2 separate regions of the Homo sapiens genome follow, and region 2 is linked to region 1. The links come from fine-mapping of genetic effects on plasma protein levels. A gene starts in region 1. The other region holds a variant in brackets. All regions are shown on one strand. Distances are between the middles of the regions. Region 1 holds the start of ISLR2 (immunoglobulin superfamily containing leucine rich repeat 2). Region 2 holds the start of CCDC33-AS1 (CCDC33 antisense RNA 1).

Region 1 (8,612 bases):
GCGGTCTGCAGGAGGCCACAGGAGGTGGTGGGGGGTTCTCTGAATGTGTGTTTATTGTGGCCTTTCTGTGTCCTGTGATGGCCCCACGGAATGGAGGACTGAGAGTTGCAGAGCAGGAAGGGGTGGCAGCCTTGTTCTTTCCTGGTCAATGTGCCAGGCTCCCAAAATATTCAGTGATCAGATTTTAACCTCAAATAGCAGTGCCCCAACCGCCCCTGAATCTTGCTATGGAAAGAGCCTTTGGTAAGTGTTTTGAAGCAGGAAGACTCCCTCTGCCCACAGAGCAGTGCACAGCAGTTTGGGGGAGGGGCTAGCTCCTGGGACCCAAGCGGGCCTCAAGAGATGAGGCGGGAGGCGGGTTGCAGTGTGATGGGAGGGGAGACACAGAAATTGCCAAGGGCCATGAGGAAGAGAGGAAGCCACAACCCCAGGCTCCCAAGGAGGGTGTCTTCCTGCAGGAAGCCCTGTCAGATGGCAGCCTGCGGCCCAAAAGCCCCAACTCAACCTGCAAACTGGCTTCTTCTAAGGCCACAGCACCCAAGGGCCTCAAGACACACATCTAGCCCATTCCCCTACCATTGCATGGGTGGAAACCTAGAAGGAGAGAGGGCAAGGAGTTGCTTAAGACCACTTAGAGAGTTTGTGAAGCTGGAGTGAGCTTTCAGGTTGTGGAGCTCCAAGCCCAGTGTGGTCTGCCCCACTTTGCACTGCCCCACATTTTTCCTAAGACCAAGGTAGAATTATTCCTCCTGTTTTCCACCTCAACAGTAAAAGTGCCTCTCTTCTCTGCCATGGGACTGGGAGACATGTTCAGGATGTGAAGTCATATAGGGACATCTTTGAGTTCATAAACATCTCCTGTTCATAAATATCCGACTAAAGACTGAAGCTTCCACTGCTCCCAAAATAGCTTTGGATCCCAGCACAGGCATTTCCAAGAACAGATTTTTATCCTTTCAAGAATTCCGTGAAAGAGCTGGGTGCGATGTGTGCCTCTAGGCACAGCTACTTGGGAGGATGAGGCAGGAGGATCACTTGAGCCCAGGATTTGAGGCCAGCTGGACAATACAGTTTGATCCTCAGCCCAAATAAATAAATAAGTATAAAAATAAATCAATCGATCCAAGAATTCTGTGAAAGCAAAGAATCCTCTGGTTTGTATGCCTACCAGAGTTTCCTGAAGTTGGTCACACACACTGCCCTGACCCTGACTGTGATCTCAGACTGTGGATATAGATTGGTCTAAACTCCAGATAAGGAAGTATCTAGTATGGTCCATTATAATCCTGGTCATTCTCATTTCAATTCATTTTGATACAATATTAGGCTACTCTGAACATGCAATTCCCCAATCCTTCTATTTAAAAGGGATTTCTTGCTTGTAGTGAGCCTTGGGATTGACTCCTCTATAGCCATATCAGGGCCAGATAATTATTCTGAACCAATCAGTTTCATCCCCTTCACCAGTGACTGGTTCAGAGATAAACAGTCCTATGACAATAGGTGTCAAGACCCAGGGGAGAGGCTGTGGCTTCGGAAAAGAGAAGCCTGTCTTTCTAACCCACTAGTCTGTTAACATTACGTTTGTGGCTGGGCACAGTGGCTTACACCTGTAATTTTCAGCACTTTGGGAGGCTGAGGCGGAAGGATCACTTGAGGTCAAGAGTTTGAGACCAGCCTAGCCAACATGGTGAAACCCTGTCTCTACTAAAAATACAAAAACTAGCGGGGTGTGGTGGCACGCACCTGTAATCCAAGCAACTCGGGAGGCCGAGGCAGGAGAATCACTTGAACCCAGGAAGTGGAGGTTGCAGTGAGCCAAAATTGTGCCACCGCACTTCAGCCTGAGTAACAAGAGTGAGACTCCATCTAAAAAGAAAAAAAAACAAAAAACACAATAGGTATGTTTCCTTGGTGGCTCCGGAAGCCCTCCAGTGACACCAAGGCACCAAGGGACCCAGTCCTTGGGCTGGAAGCCCTATTAAGGGTGGCAGAGGGGAGAGATGAAAGAACTTGCAACTGCTGATGTCACTGAGCCGCTGAATCAACAGCCGGGAAGCCAGCCTTGCTTCCTGCTTTGTGAGACGATACACTTAATACTTTCCATCCTTGGGGGTGGGAATCTTGTTATTTGCCGATGGAAATATTACACATCATCCCCAGCCCCCACTCCCCTGCCTCACCCGGCCCTACCCTTTACCATGGCAAGTCCTGCCACGGAGGAGCTGGCTGCCTCAGAAAATCTCTTGGGGAAACCAGTCCTGCCTGAATTGGGGTGGGATTGCCAAGCATTTTGCATCCCGCCCCCCTTACTTGTTTTTTGGTGTTTTTTTGTTTTGTTTTTTGTTTTCGTTTTTGTTTTTGTTTTGAGACAGAGTCTCACTCTGTTGCCCAGGCTGGAGTGCAGTGGTGTGATCATGGCTTATGGCTGCCTCGACCTCCTGGGCTCAAGCGATCCTCTGGTCTCAGTCTCCCTCCAGAGTAGCTGGGACCACAGTTGTGTGCCACCACGCCCAACTAATTTAAAAAAAATGTAGAGATGAGGTCTGACTATGTTGCCCAAGCTGGTCTTAAACTCCTGGGCTCAAATATTCCTTCTATCTTGGCATCCCAAAGTGCTGGGATTACAGGCATGAGCCATCTTGCTCAGCCATGTTCCCCTTTGAATGCAGGAGTATCGCCTCTTCCAGGCAGGAGTTCCTCTTATTCAGTGAGACAAGCACAGACCCAGATAATTACATGAGCTGCCACTGGAAGAGCTGCTGTTAATTTTGATGGCAATAAAAGGCCTTGCCAGTACGTTAAGCTAATTTCATGAAAATGCTGGGAGGAGGGTCATGGGCTGGATCCCAGATTATTAATAATGTCGAGCTTCATTTGAACCATTCAGAAAATTCCTCTCAGTTGCCTCCAGCAAACTGCAACAGGTTGCTACTTTCCTCTGAAATCAACAGTCTTCTCATAGGCAAATGTGGATTTTTTTGTTTTTCCCTAGAAAATAATTAAAGTCACAAAGTCCAATAAATACTTAAACAGAATGTAGTTTTAATTAAAAACCTTCCACCAAGTCTGCAGTTGCGGGTCTCTCTTTGCAAACAGGCATGCTGACAAGCATCAGTCTAAGTATCTGAAACTAGAAACCTTTACAAATAATAATAGTAAATCTGGTTTCTACATATACCCATGGTGTGTGTGTGTGCAAAGGGGGTGGTGGTGGTGAAGAGGTCTGGGGGCAGAGCCAAGGTGCTCCCCTGTGGAGGAGGCAGGACACAAGCCTGTAGGGGTGTGTGCAGCAGAACCTTTTATCAAACTTGTGTCCCACTCTGCAAGGCAATAATAATGGCTAATTCAGCTATTATATAAAAAACGTATCTCAAGTACTGAGCACTAAGTGTCAGGTACTAAGTGCTTTGCGTACATTGATTCATTTAATCCTCAAGGTGACCGAAAAGCATAGGTATTTTTTTTTTTTTTTTTTTTTTTTTGAGACAGAGTCTCGCTCTGTCGCCCAGGCCGGAATGCAGTGGCACTATCTCGGCTCACTGCAACCTCTGCCTCCCGAGATTCTCCTGCCTCAGCCTCCTGAGTAGCTGGGATTACAGGCATGCACCACCACGCCCGGCTAATTTTTGTATTTTTAGCAGAGACGAGGTTTCACCATGTTGGTCAGGCTGGTCTCGAACTCCTGACCTTGTGATCCGCCCGCCTGGGCCTCCCAAAGTGCTGGGATTATTACAGGTGTGAGCCACCGCGCCTGGTCAGTACTCTTATTTATGCCTTTTTTTCTTGAGGCACAGAGAGGTTAAATAGCTTGGCTAAGGACACACAGTCAGTACATAATGGAGTCTGACGCTAGGACCTGCCCGCCTGACGACTACATAGAACCTGTACAAGGAAAGGCCGGAGGAGGGAGTATAAACAGGGCCTGGCTTCCCTGAGGAGTGATCTTTCGACTGGAAATTAGAAAAGGAAAGCAGCTTCTTGAGGGTGTGGGGCTGGAGAGAACATTTGTGTGTGTGTGTGTGTGTGTGTGTGTGTGTGTGTGTGTGTGTGTGTGTGTGTGTGTCTGTGCGCGCAGAAGCTGAAAGATGGGAAGTAGTGAGTGTTCAGGGGCTTCTGACTGGAGGGCAGCCTTGGGGAAGGTCTCCGCAGCCTTAACCGGCTGCTATGCTGGGGATGTTTGATGCCCATCTGGGCCCCGGCTTTCTTATTCTCAGAGGCCCTTCCCACATCTTTAGGCAAGTCCATTAAATCCTCCGCGTGCCACATTAAAATACAAGGGCAAGTACAACTCTGAGTGCAGTTGCAACAGAATCGTTTGCACAATGTCGCATGTCTTAAACATTCAATCAAACATCGATTACTTCCAATTTTGCAGTTTTCTTTGCCCCTGTTAGCGCCAACAGATTTTTTTTTCCAGATCTCAGACATTTATTTTAATAGGCCCCTGACAAAGTCATAAGACTCAGAGAGAAGGGAGAGTGGGAGAGGTGTATAGGAAGGTTTTGTGCCAGGGACTAGTCGCTCAAGAATTAGGAGACGCCCTGGGCACTGGAAACTACGCAGCGCGAAGTAGGGACAGCGCCTGTGTTGTGTAGTGGACCAGAGGTTGCTGATACCTGGGACATAGACTGGGTGGGCACGGGAAGTAAAGCCTCGGGACTTTGGTTAAGCGCGCCCCACTGGCGTATCGCGCCGCGGGACTGCAGAGCCGTGAGCAGCGGTCGCCTTGGTGCAGGGTTCCAGCCACATCTTCCTCGCCCAGCCAGCACCCTCTGCCGTTGACCCGCCTCTGCGCCCGGCAAGCGGCTTCCAGCAGGGGGCGCGCGCGGACCAGGCTTGGGCCCTAGAACAGCGCGGATGGAGTCGCTGGAGCAAGTCCCCAGATCCAACCGGTTTCAACCCTCCCCACCCTCCCGACGCTCCGGGTTCGCGACGTTGAAGTTAAGGGTCGATCCGCAGAAAGCGGCCAGGGGCTCCAGCTCTCCATTCCTGGGTCTGTCTGGGGTCGGCTCCAGCCTGGTTAGAAGCCTTAGTCTGGATTCGGCAGATTCTGAATCTGGGACCCTCTGCGCTAGCGGCTTGGAACCTTGTCACCCTCCCCTCCCCCACCCCTACTTCCACACACCTGATTAGTTGTCTGTTTCTTTAATGATCAAAGACGTGGGCGGCGGCGGGATGAGGTCTTGGTTCCCGGCTCCACAGCCCTCCCTAACTGTCATTATTAACGTTATAAACATTAGACCCGCTTCTGCGCGCCGGACGGCGCCGGACGAGGTGCGCGCAGTCTTCTAGCTGAGCTCGGAGGCAGATCCAGAAGTCGCGGCTCCCACCCCAGGCCTCGGCGGACTCTGCCTGGGGCGACTCGGGCTCCAGCCCTGCCCGGGCGGGCACTGGGCTCTCCAGGGTCGAAGGCAGGGGTAAGGGGCGTCTTTCCCCCAGGGCAGCCTCCGGGAACAAAAGCATTTGCTGTAGAGTGAGCTAGAGCCTCCGGGCCCGCGGGAGTCAGCTCCCGCCCAGGGGTGGTCACCGCGTCCTTAACCACCCCAGGAGCCCCGTCTCCCTGCCGAACTCCTTGGCTTCTGCAACCCTGTCAAGACAGCAAGGAAAGGGGGTCTTCCCTGGTCCTCGGGCCCCGAAGTTTCGGGGTTGCTTATAGGACGGGTTCCTGCAGTCCAGGGAAGCTCTGGGCAGATAGCGAGCCCATTCTCCCTTCCATTACCCAGATTCTGCCTCCCTGCGGAAGGCAAAAAAGAAAGAAAGAAAATAGGTAAAAACCGGCGGAGGGCCTTGAGCCTCCCCGCCTGGCGCCCCTCACTCAGTCCCGAAAAGTCCCCTGGACACGCCATGCCGGACCGGACTCAGCTCCCGCTGCTGGGCCCCTGCCTCCAAATATCCTTCCCAGGCACAGGCTCCCAAGACCGCCCCCTCAGGGTTCCCAACACCCGGACAACTGCCCAAGACGCCGCTCCCCGCCCCCACCCCCACCTTGTTCGGCAGACAAAGAAGGGTGTGCTGGCCCCGCCGTCTGCCTCCTTCTCCCGACCCCACAAGGCCTAGAAACCTCAGGGACTCACCCCGGGCTAGGGACCCAATCCTGGCTGTCCCACCACAGGATCCCCGGCAGGGACGGGTCACAGTGCTCTCACCCCTCGACCATTTTCGAAGACACCTTCCCTGAAAGGCGCCTTGCGCCCTCCCCATGGGTCGGCGGGGGGGGACTCCAGGCCCGAGCAGGCGGTGTGAAGTTCTGTGTTCTGAACTGGGGCTGAGCAAGATGCGATGGTCTCAGCCCGCTGGGCCGCCCGTAGCGACGGCAGGAGTAGGGGAGAGGGAGGGACGCTTGGAGTGTGAGCGCACCAGTCTGTTCATATTTAATTTACAAAGCAGCCTCGGAACCCCGGGCCGGGTGGTCTCTTTAGACGCTGCGCTCTTAGCCTGTCTCTCTTCCCCACCCCCTCCCCTAGCTCATTAAGATGCTCAACACTCAAATCGGGGTATTGATCTCCACGGAAGCCCCAAACCCTCGCCATCGAGAGACCCCCATGGCCCGGGGTGATGGCTGTGGGGCTTGGTGCTCCCAGAGAGCTCAGTGGCTACAGAATGGGTGGGGATTCTGCGTGTCTCCCGGAGCCTGAACCCCTTTCCTGGTTATGGCCGGTAGCTGTCTCCAGGGCTAACGTGGGCAGCGCAGGGGGGCGGAAACCGGGTTTTAGCCAAATGCCTCGACATCGCCGCGCCTCCGCCTCCTCGTCGCTGAAAGAAATGTCGGGGTTTCATCAGAGCTAGGGAGCGACAGTCGGGAACAGCGAGTCTGCCGAAGCCGGCTGTTGTGTGAGGGTGTGAGACGGCGGGGCGGTGAGGGGCCACCGCGGCTTGGGGGATAGTGCGTGTGGGGTTGACCGTGTGTCTGCTTGAGAGGCTGTGAAGATATGGGGGGCAGATATGGGAGAAATGCTCGGGCCTGAAGTCCCCAGCCCACCGTGCTCAAGAGTAGCGGACGTTTTGCCACCATCCTTGTCTGTGCTACTGTCTGCTGCAGCTTCCGTGCCCCGTTCTCCTGGAGCAGGCAAGACCTGGAGTGAGGTGCTTGGGTGCGCTCGAGAGAGCTTCCCCCTGCTCCACCTGTCCCGCGGTGCGCGCAGGCCAACGCGTCGGGCAGTGGGCTTCAAGCGCTGGTTTAGCCACAAAAGACCAGAAGTAAAGAGTTCCGGCTTAAGAGGCTGGGCAGGGCTGCGGTGGGCTGGGGAGGGGGGTGTCCCTTCCCAGCACGCCCTGCAGGGCTGTGCGTTCTGGTGTCGGGTTAGACTAGCAGGCGGGGCGGGGGGGTTGGGGCGGCGGGGCGGGGGAGACTAGGGCTTATATCAGCCCAGATCCAGGCAAAAATGGTAGGGAGGGTGCGGCGCTCTGCTAACACTATCAATTATGCATCATGTTGAACGTGGCTTCGGGGAGGAGGCGGCTAGCAGCGGGGGGTGCGGGAGGGAAGGGTCCGCGCGAGCTCGGCTGCGCGCAGCTCAGCGGGTCCCGCTCGAAGTCTGTCGGTGCCACCGCCTGCATTTGCAAAAAGAGTTTAAAGGCAAAGACACGCCTTCCCCCCCCACTTCAGCCGCGCGCCTTTCCTTCCCCCAAATTCCTCAAAGATGGTTTGTCTCACGTGTTGCAGGGCGTAAAAGCGGCTTGCATTCAATTAGCAGCGAAGCTCGCGGGCGCTGGCGGGACAGGCGCGTGAGGGTGAGTTCGCGTGAATGTGTGTATGCGTGTGCGAGAGGAGAACGGTAAGTGTCCCGGGTGCAGGTGTGCCCGTGAAAATGCGTGTGAATGTAGCAGGGGCTGAACACATTGATGCGATTATTACCTGACCATGGATGATTGTAAACTGTGAAGGTCGGCTATGGGGAGGGTGTGAGGGACTGTGTGCGCGAATGTGTTTGAACGTGGGGTGGGGGAGGTGGTGTGATCAGGGACAGTAACAATGCCAGCGGCTGTGTAAATGTGGGGGTACGTGGGTTATGGGGGTGCAGTAGGCTGCGAAGAGCCCAGCCAGGACAGTGGGCGTGGGATGCCCCTTATGACCGACGTGTCTTGGCCTTGGGGAGGGTCTCCGTGGCTTTAACAAAAGTAGACCAAGCAGGAGGCGGGAGAGGCTATGCGCGTCCCCGCCAGGCCCGGGAGTGCGCAAGGACTTTCTCCAACCTGCAGCCAGAGAGGTGGGGGAAACGGACGCAAAAGGAAAAATTGAAGTGGTACTTTGGGGCCACCAAGTCCCCAAACTTACCTGTCCCTTTCTTTGCCCCCCGCCCCCCGTTTTCCCCACAGCCACAACACATGCGTGTATCTTGCTTGGGCTATCTTCCCTGCTCTGCCACGCCGGGTCTGGAGAAGGGGTTTCAGCCCCAGGACATTTACTGAGAGTCGGCGAATATTGGGTAAGCAATGGGGGCCACCCCACAACCTTGACCCAGGTGGGGTTAGGTCCAGCCTAGGGCACCTGATGGGGTGCGGGGCTGGTGGGGGTGCTGTCTGGCAGGAACCGGGAAGGGAGGGAAGGGACCCTCCCAGAAGAGCAAAGGCAGAGTGAAGGAGCAGGTTCCCAAAGACAAGTTGTGGGA
Region 2 (8,612 bases), 190 kb after region 1:
TGGTAGAGACGGGGTTTCGCCATATTGGCCAGGATGGTCTCGAACACCTGACCTCAGGTGATTAGCCCAGCACAGATTTCTAACCCCGGAGGGCTATGAATGCTGAGCTGGCCCTGCCACAGAAGTGCTAGGCAACTTCTTACCCTGTCTGGGCTCTGGGTCCTGCATAGCACATTGGATTTGTTTAGAATGCAACCAGACCTTATTCTGGGAGGGTCACAAGCATGCTTGGTGCCAGCATCCAGGCCCAGCCCAGTCCACTTTGCCTGCCTATAACAGGCTTGACAGCTGGGCCTTGGACTTACATCCAAGGTCCCATGACTGAACCCTGCAGCCGCTCCAGTCTCATCTCCTACCAGCCCCTCCTTGCCGCGTGTCCTGTCTGCACTCCCACGGTGTTCCAGGCTGCTGCTCACCTCCACACCTGTGCTCCTGCTGTTCCCTGTGCTAGGACTGTGTCTCCTCCTTATGCCTGTATCACCTGACAAACTCCTACTCATCCTTCAAAACCCATCTCCCGCTCTGACATACCCTCCAATACACCCTTGCCTGCACCCCAGGGTGAGGAGGGGGCTGGCTGGGGGGCTCCCCCGCTACTGCATTTGCCATACTGATTTACTATGCCACACTGCCTGCTCTCACATCGACTAGAATACAAGCTACTTGGGGACAGAGACCCCAAGCCTTGGCCACATCTGTGTCTCCAGTGCCCACCACAGGGCCTGGCCAAGTGGGCCTGCCAAAGAGTATATCCTGAACTGGGAGGACCTCAGTCCTTGGCCTGGGTGGGGGAAAGGCAGTGCTCACCCCTCCCCTAGAGATGGAAGGAGACACACTCTTGCCACCCTGGCTGCCCACTTATAGGGTCATGGCGACCTCAAGGCAGACAGTGGATTCAGTTAGGGCAAAATGCAAACACACATTTCAGGGGTGGGGGGCACAGAGCAGGGGGCTTTAACCAAGCTCTCTGCCCACCCTCCCCCTGCCAGCCCCCTAGTCTGGACCCATCCCAGGGCCCCTCTGTGAACATCACTGGCATCATGACGAGCCCTTTCCTGCAGACAGCTCCAAGCTGTGGTGGAGCACCTGGGGTGGGGATTTGGGGGTTAGGAGGGGTACAGTTCCATTTGTATTTCAGGCCCAGCAGCATTCCTGCCAGGAGAGAGTTTTAGAAATGGAAATGGAGGGCTGTGTTCCCTCAGCACATGTCCCGCCTCCGGGAGCTGGCATCTCTGCTCTCACATGGCCCATGTGCAGGGGCACAGAACCCCAGGTGCCAACGAGCCCCCTCCTAGGCTGCAGCAGAAGCCCACAGCCAGGCAGGGCCCAGAGAAGTCTGACAGCCTGCCAAAAGCAACAGCAAAAACCACCTCAGCCCAGGAGCCTCCCATCCCCCACCCCCGTGTGTCTGATGCGGTGGTTTTATTGCGGGCAGTGAGGGCATTCATGACAGCCTCAGAATGTATGAGCCAGACCTGGAGCCAGCAGGGGTAAGGGGAGCAGAGCAACTGTGCGACTCCAGGAGATGGGATGTGGGCTCAGTGGAGGCCGTTGCAGGGGACCAGGGAGGCATCTGGACCTTCTGGCTAGGCCAGCTTCAAGCTCGAGTTGCGGGGAGGCCTCTCCTACCAGCAGCTAAGCATGGCTATCAACATCCTGCGTGCCCCACCCTGAGTTCAGCTGAGCCTCTGGCCCTGCAATAGGGAGATCCCAGCCCTGATGAGTGATGAAGCATGAGCCCTGCCCTTGCGGACTCCAAGGCCAAGGCCAGTTGAGGACAGGAGAGCCAGCCCCAGGGTCCGGAGTGGTGGTGAAGACTCTGGAACCAGCTCACCCACTCCAAGAACTTCCCTAGCCTCCTCATACCTCACTCTCCTCCTCTGTGGAATGGACATGGAGAAGGCTACTTCATCAGGTGACTGGTGGTGAAGTTAGGCCGATCTATTTAAGGTAGTTAGAACAGTGCCCAGCCTATGGTGAGCTCTTGTTACCTGCCTGGTGCAGGCTCTAGAAATTCAGAAAGGAAGCCAAGAAGAGTAGGAAAGTCTTTTGTTAGGAGGTGGGCTTTGCAGAATGGATCTGCAGAGATGGGGGAAGGCGACTCTGTCCTGTAGGTGGGGGAACTGCGTGAGCAAAGGCACAGAGGCCGGATGCACTGAACCTGTTTGTTCCCCCAGAGGTTCTGAGGCCACAGGAAGTGGCTGGCGTGGGAGTGGCTGGTCCAAGGGGAGCTGCACTATTAAGTGTGGAGGGGGAGGGGGACAGGAGCAGGACCACAGGGACCTTGACCGCCAAGCTGGGGGAAGGAAGTGTGAATAAAGCCCCAATGCCACCAGGCATCTCTGTACTGCCCTCCTCTCCCTCCCCACTCCAGCCAGGCACCTGCCCTGTTTCCTGGGACCCCCTGAAGGAGGACATCCCTTAGCTCCACAAAGAGCCCTGCCCTAGTCTTCACATAGTAATTGTCTTGTGTGTCTCACCCAGTGATAAGGGGTGGGCAAGGGGCAGGGGTGGGGGCTCTTGAGCACCCGTTTTATAGATGAAATGCCTGAGACCAGGCGGGAGCCCCTGGGGCCTCCCTGGCTTCATGGGGCAGGCTCAAGTCCCTCAAGGGCGCGGCTTCCCTCCCTCTCAGCAGCCCACACTTGTTCTATGTCCGGTGATGGGTCCCTGAGGGTCCGCTGGGGCGCCCCTCCAGCCTCCCGCCAGAGCAGGGCTGGAAGACTGCCATGTCTGGGGCCAGGCTGAGCTCAGTGCATGCCTCTGCGTAGTGCATTATTGATGGGGCTTCTAATTGTGCGTTTCCCAAAGTCTACAGGCTTTTGATGAAAAATTCATGGCACGCCCGAGGATGGGAGCAGACTCAATCGATTGGCGCACAGCAGGCAGGGGAGGACAGGGCCCCTTGCAGGGAGGGGTGGTGAAGCCTGGTCTGGGAGGCTTCTTGCCCCAGGATCTTGGGGATAGCAGGGGGCACACACCCATTTCCCTGGTGGGGAGGCTGAGGGGCAGGAGCAGGAAGATTTAAGGCCCACATCTCAGTGCCAGCCAGTGACTGGTGCCATCCAGGGAGGATGGCCGACTCCACCACGGGCCTCCCTTTCATTTCCCTGGAGGGGTGCTAGACCCTCCAGAGCCCCTCATGAGAGTTGCACAGAGGAGGGAGTAATATTTCTGGAGCCACTCTTATATGCCAGACGCTGCTCGGACGTGTACACTCGCAGCCTCATTTAATCCCCAACAGCGTTATGAGATGGGCACAGTGATGCACTCCATTTTACAGAGGAGAAAACAGGCTTAGAGAGGTTAAGTGACCTGTCCAAAGTCACACAGCTGCTTAGTAACAGAGCCCACTATCTTTCCACTTCACCAGGCCCACTCAAATAAGAACTAATAGGAGTATGGGGATTGTCTTGTGCCACTCCCCTACTTGTCCCTATTGTTCAGAGGAAGTGTCCCCATTAAGAAAAAGTGGAGTGGGCCAGGTGCAGTGGCTCATGCCTGTAATCCCAGCATTTTGGGAGGCTGAGGCAGGTGGATCACGAGGTCAGGAGATCGAGAGCATCCTGGCTAACACGGTGAAACCCAGTCTCTACTAAAAAAATACAAGAAATTAGCCAGGCATGGTGGCAGGCACCTGTAGTCCCAGCTACTCGGGAGGCTGAGGCAGGAGAATGGCATGAACCCGGGAGGCGGAGCTTGCAGTGAGCCCAGATCGCGCCACTGTACTCCAGCCTGGGAGACAGAGCAAGAGACAGAGCCAGACTCCATTTCAAAAAAAGGAAAAAAGAAAAAGAGTAAGTGAAACATGAGGCCTGCAAATGAGAAAAGGAAGCGCCCTCCACAACACCGGCAGAAGCCAGAGGCCCCCCAACCCTGTGCAGAGTGCTGAGCTGGGCACCCAGCAGCAGGGGTGGAGATTTTGAAACGGGTAGAGGTGACTGTCTTGGCTTGTCCAGTCAGGGATTATTATTGTGCCACCATTGAGGCCCCAAAGAACACTGTAAGTCATCTATTCATTCATTAAACAAGTAAACAAATATTTATGAAGTCCCAGTGCTGGTCAGCATCTTGCTAGGTCCAGGTGGAGGGCCCTATCATGAAAGCCTTTGGGACCAAGCTTGTCTGGGACAGACAGGCTGAACCCAGTTCAGCTGGGGAAAGGCAGGCAGGCCCCTCCATGCCCCAGGAGGGGGTCTCCGCAACCCAGGCTGAAGCCAGTTATATCAGACATTCTGCCTTCATGACCAGGGCCGTTTCTAGGTGGCGGGCTGGCTTGTTTGGGTTTGTTTTTTTTTTTTTTTTTTTTTTTGCTTCCCAGTGAGTTTCTTTCAAAAAC[A/T]TCCACCCATGTCTCCGCTGAACTAAAGAGAAAGGAATTTGTCCAGAGCATCAGGAAAGCAGCCAGAGGAAGTCCCCAGGGACCAGGCGTGGGGCCCTAAGCCACACTGCAGCTGCAGGGAGGAGAGTGAGCCCAGCTTGTGCTGCTGCGGGGTGGGGAGGACTCCTGAGGGGACAAGGGGGAATCAGGGAGCAGAGAGACTAAGGGGGAGGGGGAGGAGGAGACTCAGGGACAGAGGGTGAGGCTCAGTGGGAGAGAAAGGGGAGACAGGGTATGGGGGTAACCAGGAGGCAGAGAAAGTGGAGAAGAGCGGAGGGAGTTGAGGGGGAGGCAGGAACCAAGGTGTAGCCAAGGGCAGGTGAGGGAGGAGGGACTCTGAGCCTGGGCCAGGGGAGTCAGAAGGCCGGAGCCCTGAAGGGCCCCACAGCCCTCCCCGGCCCTGCTGTCTCCATACAATTCTGTGGCCAAGGAGTGAACCTTGCATGATTTCAGCCACCCCACCCAGACACCCCCCACCCTGGAACAAAGGGGAAGTGGCCCCATGGGCCTGCCTGCTTCCAGCTCAGGGCTGGGCTTGGTCACCAGGCAGGCACTTGTTGTAGCAACAGTCCCTGGGGACCCATCCTGGGGAACAGGACTGCTAGCAGTAAAGATGGGGGAGCCAGGGCCCCCATCCCCTCCAGCCCCCAAGGCTGCCCCAGGCCTCATTGACAGCTTCTCTGTAAGTCGCCCCCTCGCCCACTGGTTCTGGGAAGATGGGTTGGCTCGCCTAGCAGCAGGTGTGTTGGGGTGTGTTGCCCAGCAACCAGTAGAGGTGTTCCCAGAGCCTCTTAAGTGGGAGGCAGGGTGGAGAGGACCAGGGCTTTGGCCCTTAGATGCCCGTGGTCACAGGAATCTTTTGCAAGGCCCCTGGCTCCAGCCTAGGCCACCTGAGCCCACACAGTAATCCAGAGAGGGAGGACAGAAGGGCTTCTGGGAAAATCCCTTGAAGTGATCATTGCCTCCTGCTAGTCTGGGCCCTACCTCTGGTGTCTTGGAGGTCCAGCCTTGGATCCTAGAAAGTGGCTGAGCCTGGGCTAGCCTGGGAAGGCTTGCTGGTAGTGCATGTGTGGTGCCGAGCTGTGAGGAGGAGTGGGTGTGGCAGATGGGGCATCCAGTGGAAGCAGCAGCTCAGACTGGGGGCTGGGGCCGCCCCAGTAAGTGCTAACCCTTCTGGTTTGGGCCCCAGTTGCCAAAGCATTTCTTCTTCCCCTTTGGCAAGAATCCCAGAGGACAACCCCAACAAGGGTCATTCCCCACAGGGTGCAGATGAGCAGGCACGGAGTGGGCAAGGGCCTCGCTTCGGGTCGTTCGACAGCTGTGGGCAGAGGCTGGATCAGAACCCAAGGTTCTGGGTTCCAGCCAGGGCTCTTCCCCCACCCAATGTGGGGCATTCCTGAGGCAGCAAAGCTCTAACCAGGGAGGATTCTGGCAGGAGGTGACCAGTGGGGAAGGGTTCTTTGAGGAAGAGTGAACAGGGCCTGTGAGACCAGGACTGGGGCCTGCCCCTCACCACCTGCTGAATGCCCAGCCCTGTACTCACCTGGGCTGAGAGCAAGGGCTGGCCCCAATCTGCTGTCAGCAGAGGCTGGACTCTGGCCCAATACCCAAGGAGTCATGACTGATGGCCTGTCTTGGGATAGCCCGGGGGTCTTCCTGGAGGAGGAGGGCCCAGAATGGAGCCTTGAGGGTCAGGCAGCGTTCAGAAAAGCCTAGGAGGGGAAGTAGGAATGGGAAGCCAGCATCTTCCAGGAAGCCCCGCCCCCACCCCAGCCCAGCCGGTCTCCATTGTCCCAGCCAGGCCCAATTAGCACCTGGCTCCTGCAGGGGCCAATTAGACAGGGGCTGAGGTCAGCTGCCGGCCAAGGCCCTGCCACCCCTCCAAGCTTCACCAAGCCAAGCACAAAAGCTTTCTAGGCATCATCTCTGCTGCAGCAGGAAGGGAAAGAAAGAACAGAAGAAAGGGAAAATTCACTCCTTTTGTTTCTTTGCCATAACCTTGGGCTGAACAAAGAAGCAACTGCCTCCCCTCCCTGGGAGGGCAGCTTCTGTGGAGCAGGAAGTCTGTTTTAAACAGCAATTTGCACAGATTTGTTGTGGTTGGGAGGCCCAGATGACATTCGAGGGGAACCAGGAGCAGAGACCTGGGGTGAGCAGGGCCCTGGTTCTAGAAACTCCTGTGACTCCCCACTGCGCTCTGTTCAGAAGCAGAGCTTCCGGGCCTGGCTGGTGCAAACAGGTGGGCCTGCTCCAGCTCTCTAGCCAGACAGACCTGTGTACTTTGCTGCCTCCAAAGAGCCCAGCCCACATGGGCCTCCACACCTTCCCTCAGTGTTCCCCACCTCTGAAGTCCCACCCAATCCAGTCAAATCTCACCTGCACCTCAAAGGCCCAGCTCCACCCCTCCCCTGCAGGATCCCCTCCCCAACCCTACCCCTGGCCTTGACTTGCACTCCTAGGGTGTGAGCCATGTCCCACACAAGGCCTGCCTCCCACCGGGAACTCTCTGAGTGCAGGGTCTCCCCACCCCCAACAGAGCTGAGCTTAGGGGTACAAACAGCAGCTGCCAGGCCCTGCTGGGGAGCAGGTGGAAGGGAGATATATGCCAGAGTCCAAAATGGGGTTTGGGAAGCTGGGGCCACCCTGGGGTGGTGACAGGTGGAGAAGGGGACCCACCAGTGCCATTGCCTCCTCCAGGCTCCCACCCCCAGGGCAATGCCACATCGCACAGACCACCCTGCCCTCACCTCCCTAACCCTGCCCTCTGTGTCTCAGGAGCGCAGCCTCTCCCACTGGGCTATGCCCTTGCCGCTTCGATATCCCACCCAGCCAATGAGGCTCTCAGTCCTCCCTCGCCTGCCCTCTGGTGGTGATGAGGTTCCAGAGTGAATGGAGGGAAAGAAAGAAGCTTGTCCTCATGGCCAGTGGGTTCTATTGTCCTTCAGTGGCTGGGAAGGGAGCTTGGCTGGGTGGGCAGTGGCAAAGAACTGAGAGGCCAGGGTCCCAGTGGCATTGGCCCGTGTGTTTCTGGGAGTAAGGGGACTTCTTAGCCATGGTGAGCCCCAACCCCTGGGAAAACACTAGTCCCTTTCAGCAAATTTTCAGGCACAACCTCCATCCTCCCCGACTTGTCCCTGAGACGGCCCCTCAGAACTGGGCTTTTGCTCCCTGGTCTCTGGAACTGGAGGAGGCCAGCATCAATTTGCCAGCTGAATTTTCCATTGTATTTTAAAGAAATGTGGTTAATTCGCTTTATTTTATTTTATCTTATTTTATTTATTTATTTATTTTTGAGATGGAGTCTTGCTCTGTTGCCCAGGCTGGAGTTCAGAGGCACGATCTCAGCTCAGTGCAACCTCCGCCCCACCCCCGCCTGCCCCCCAGTTCAAGCGATTCTCCCACCTCATCCTCCCAAGTAGCTGGGATTACAGGCATCCACCACCATGCCTGGCTAATTTTTGTATTTTTAGTAGAGATGGGGTTTCACCATGTTGGCCAGGCTGGTCTCAAACTGCTGACCTCAGGTGATCCACCTCCCTTAGCCTCCCAAAGTGCTGAGATTACAGGCATGAGCCACTGTGCCCGGTGTACTTTTTGTATTTTTAGTAGAGAGGGGGTTTCACTGTGTTGGCTAGGCTGGTCTTGAACTCCTGACCGTGAGTGATCCGCCCCCCTCGGCTCCCAAAGTGCTGGGATTACAGGCGTGAACCACCGCACCGGGCCAAGAAATGTGGTTAATTCCCTTTAAAAGTATTGGGAAATTTAGATTAGCCAAGAGAGACCTCTCTGACATTCAAAGGACACCTACAGGAGTTCTGTTTGGCAAATCTGGCAGGAGCAGGGTCTGGGTCAAAGGATTTGCCTGAGTAAGTCAGGGAGGCAGGGAGGCCCTTCCCTGCCATCAAGGTCTTTAGGAGCTGAAGGGGGAGCATGTGCGTGGCCCTTGGCAGATGAGGAGTGCCAGGCTGGTGTAGGCGAGAAACAGCTTCTGGGCAGAGGTAGGGAAGGCTTTGAAGATAGGGGCCCAGAAGGCTGGGCCCATGGGTGGAGTGGCCAGGGCTAAATTCTGAAAGGGGGTCTAGCTGTGCTGAAAGAGGTGGAAATTCAAAGTTGGAAATTTACCATGAGGGCCAGTGGGAGTCATTGGAGGGGTCTGGAGGCCAGAGAGGATGTTCCAGTTACCTATTGCAATAACAAACTACCCCAAAATGTTATCATTTAAAACGATAATTTT

The links. A credible set is the group of variants that fine-mapping cannot tell apart. PIP is the posterior inclusion probability: the model's chance that the variant is causal. Protein levels are from the aptamer-based SomaScan assay of Sun 2018.
Region 2: its variant is the best candidate, but not a certain one, in a credible set for the plasma level of the ISLR2 protein (Sun 2018, PIP 0.59).

Annotation. Positions count from the first base shown.
Region 1 is chr15:74,122,888-74,131,499 of GRCh38, forward strand. It overlaps ISLR2 (immunoglobulin superfamily containing leucine rich repeat 2), which reads left to right and starts at 7,699. Exons shown (of 3, transcript NM_020851.3): 1 at 7,699-7,734; 2 at 8,320-8,429. It overlaps LOC283731 (a long non-coding RNA gene), which reads right to left and starts at 6,391. Exons shown (of 3, transcript NR_152622.1): 1 at 6,078-6,391; 2 at 5,129-5,737; 3 at 3,486-4,846. RefSeq lists enhancers at 1-322, 28-77, 7,005-7,914, 7,915-8,612 and a silencer at 8,316-8,515.
Region 2 is chr15:74,313,599-74,322,210 of GRCh38, forward strand. The region is part of intron 11 of CCDC33 (coiled-coil domain containing 33); the gene reads left to right. CCDC33-AS1 (CCDC33 antisense RNA 1) reads right to left here and starts at 6,094. Exons shown (of 2, transcript XR_007064711.1): 1 at 5,922-6,094. RefSeq lists enhancers at 2,195-2,294, 5,528-6,438. The variant A/T (reference allele first, on the strand shown) is at 4,340.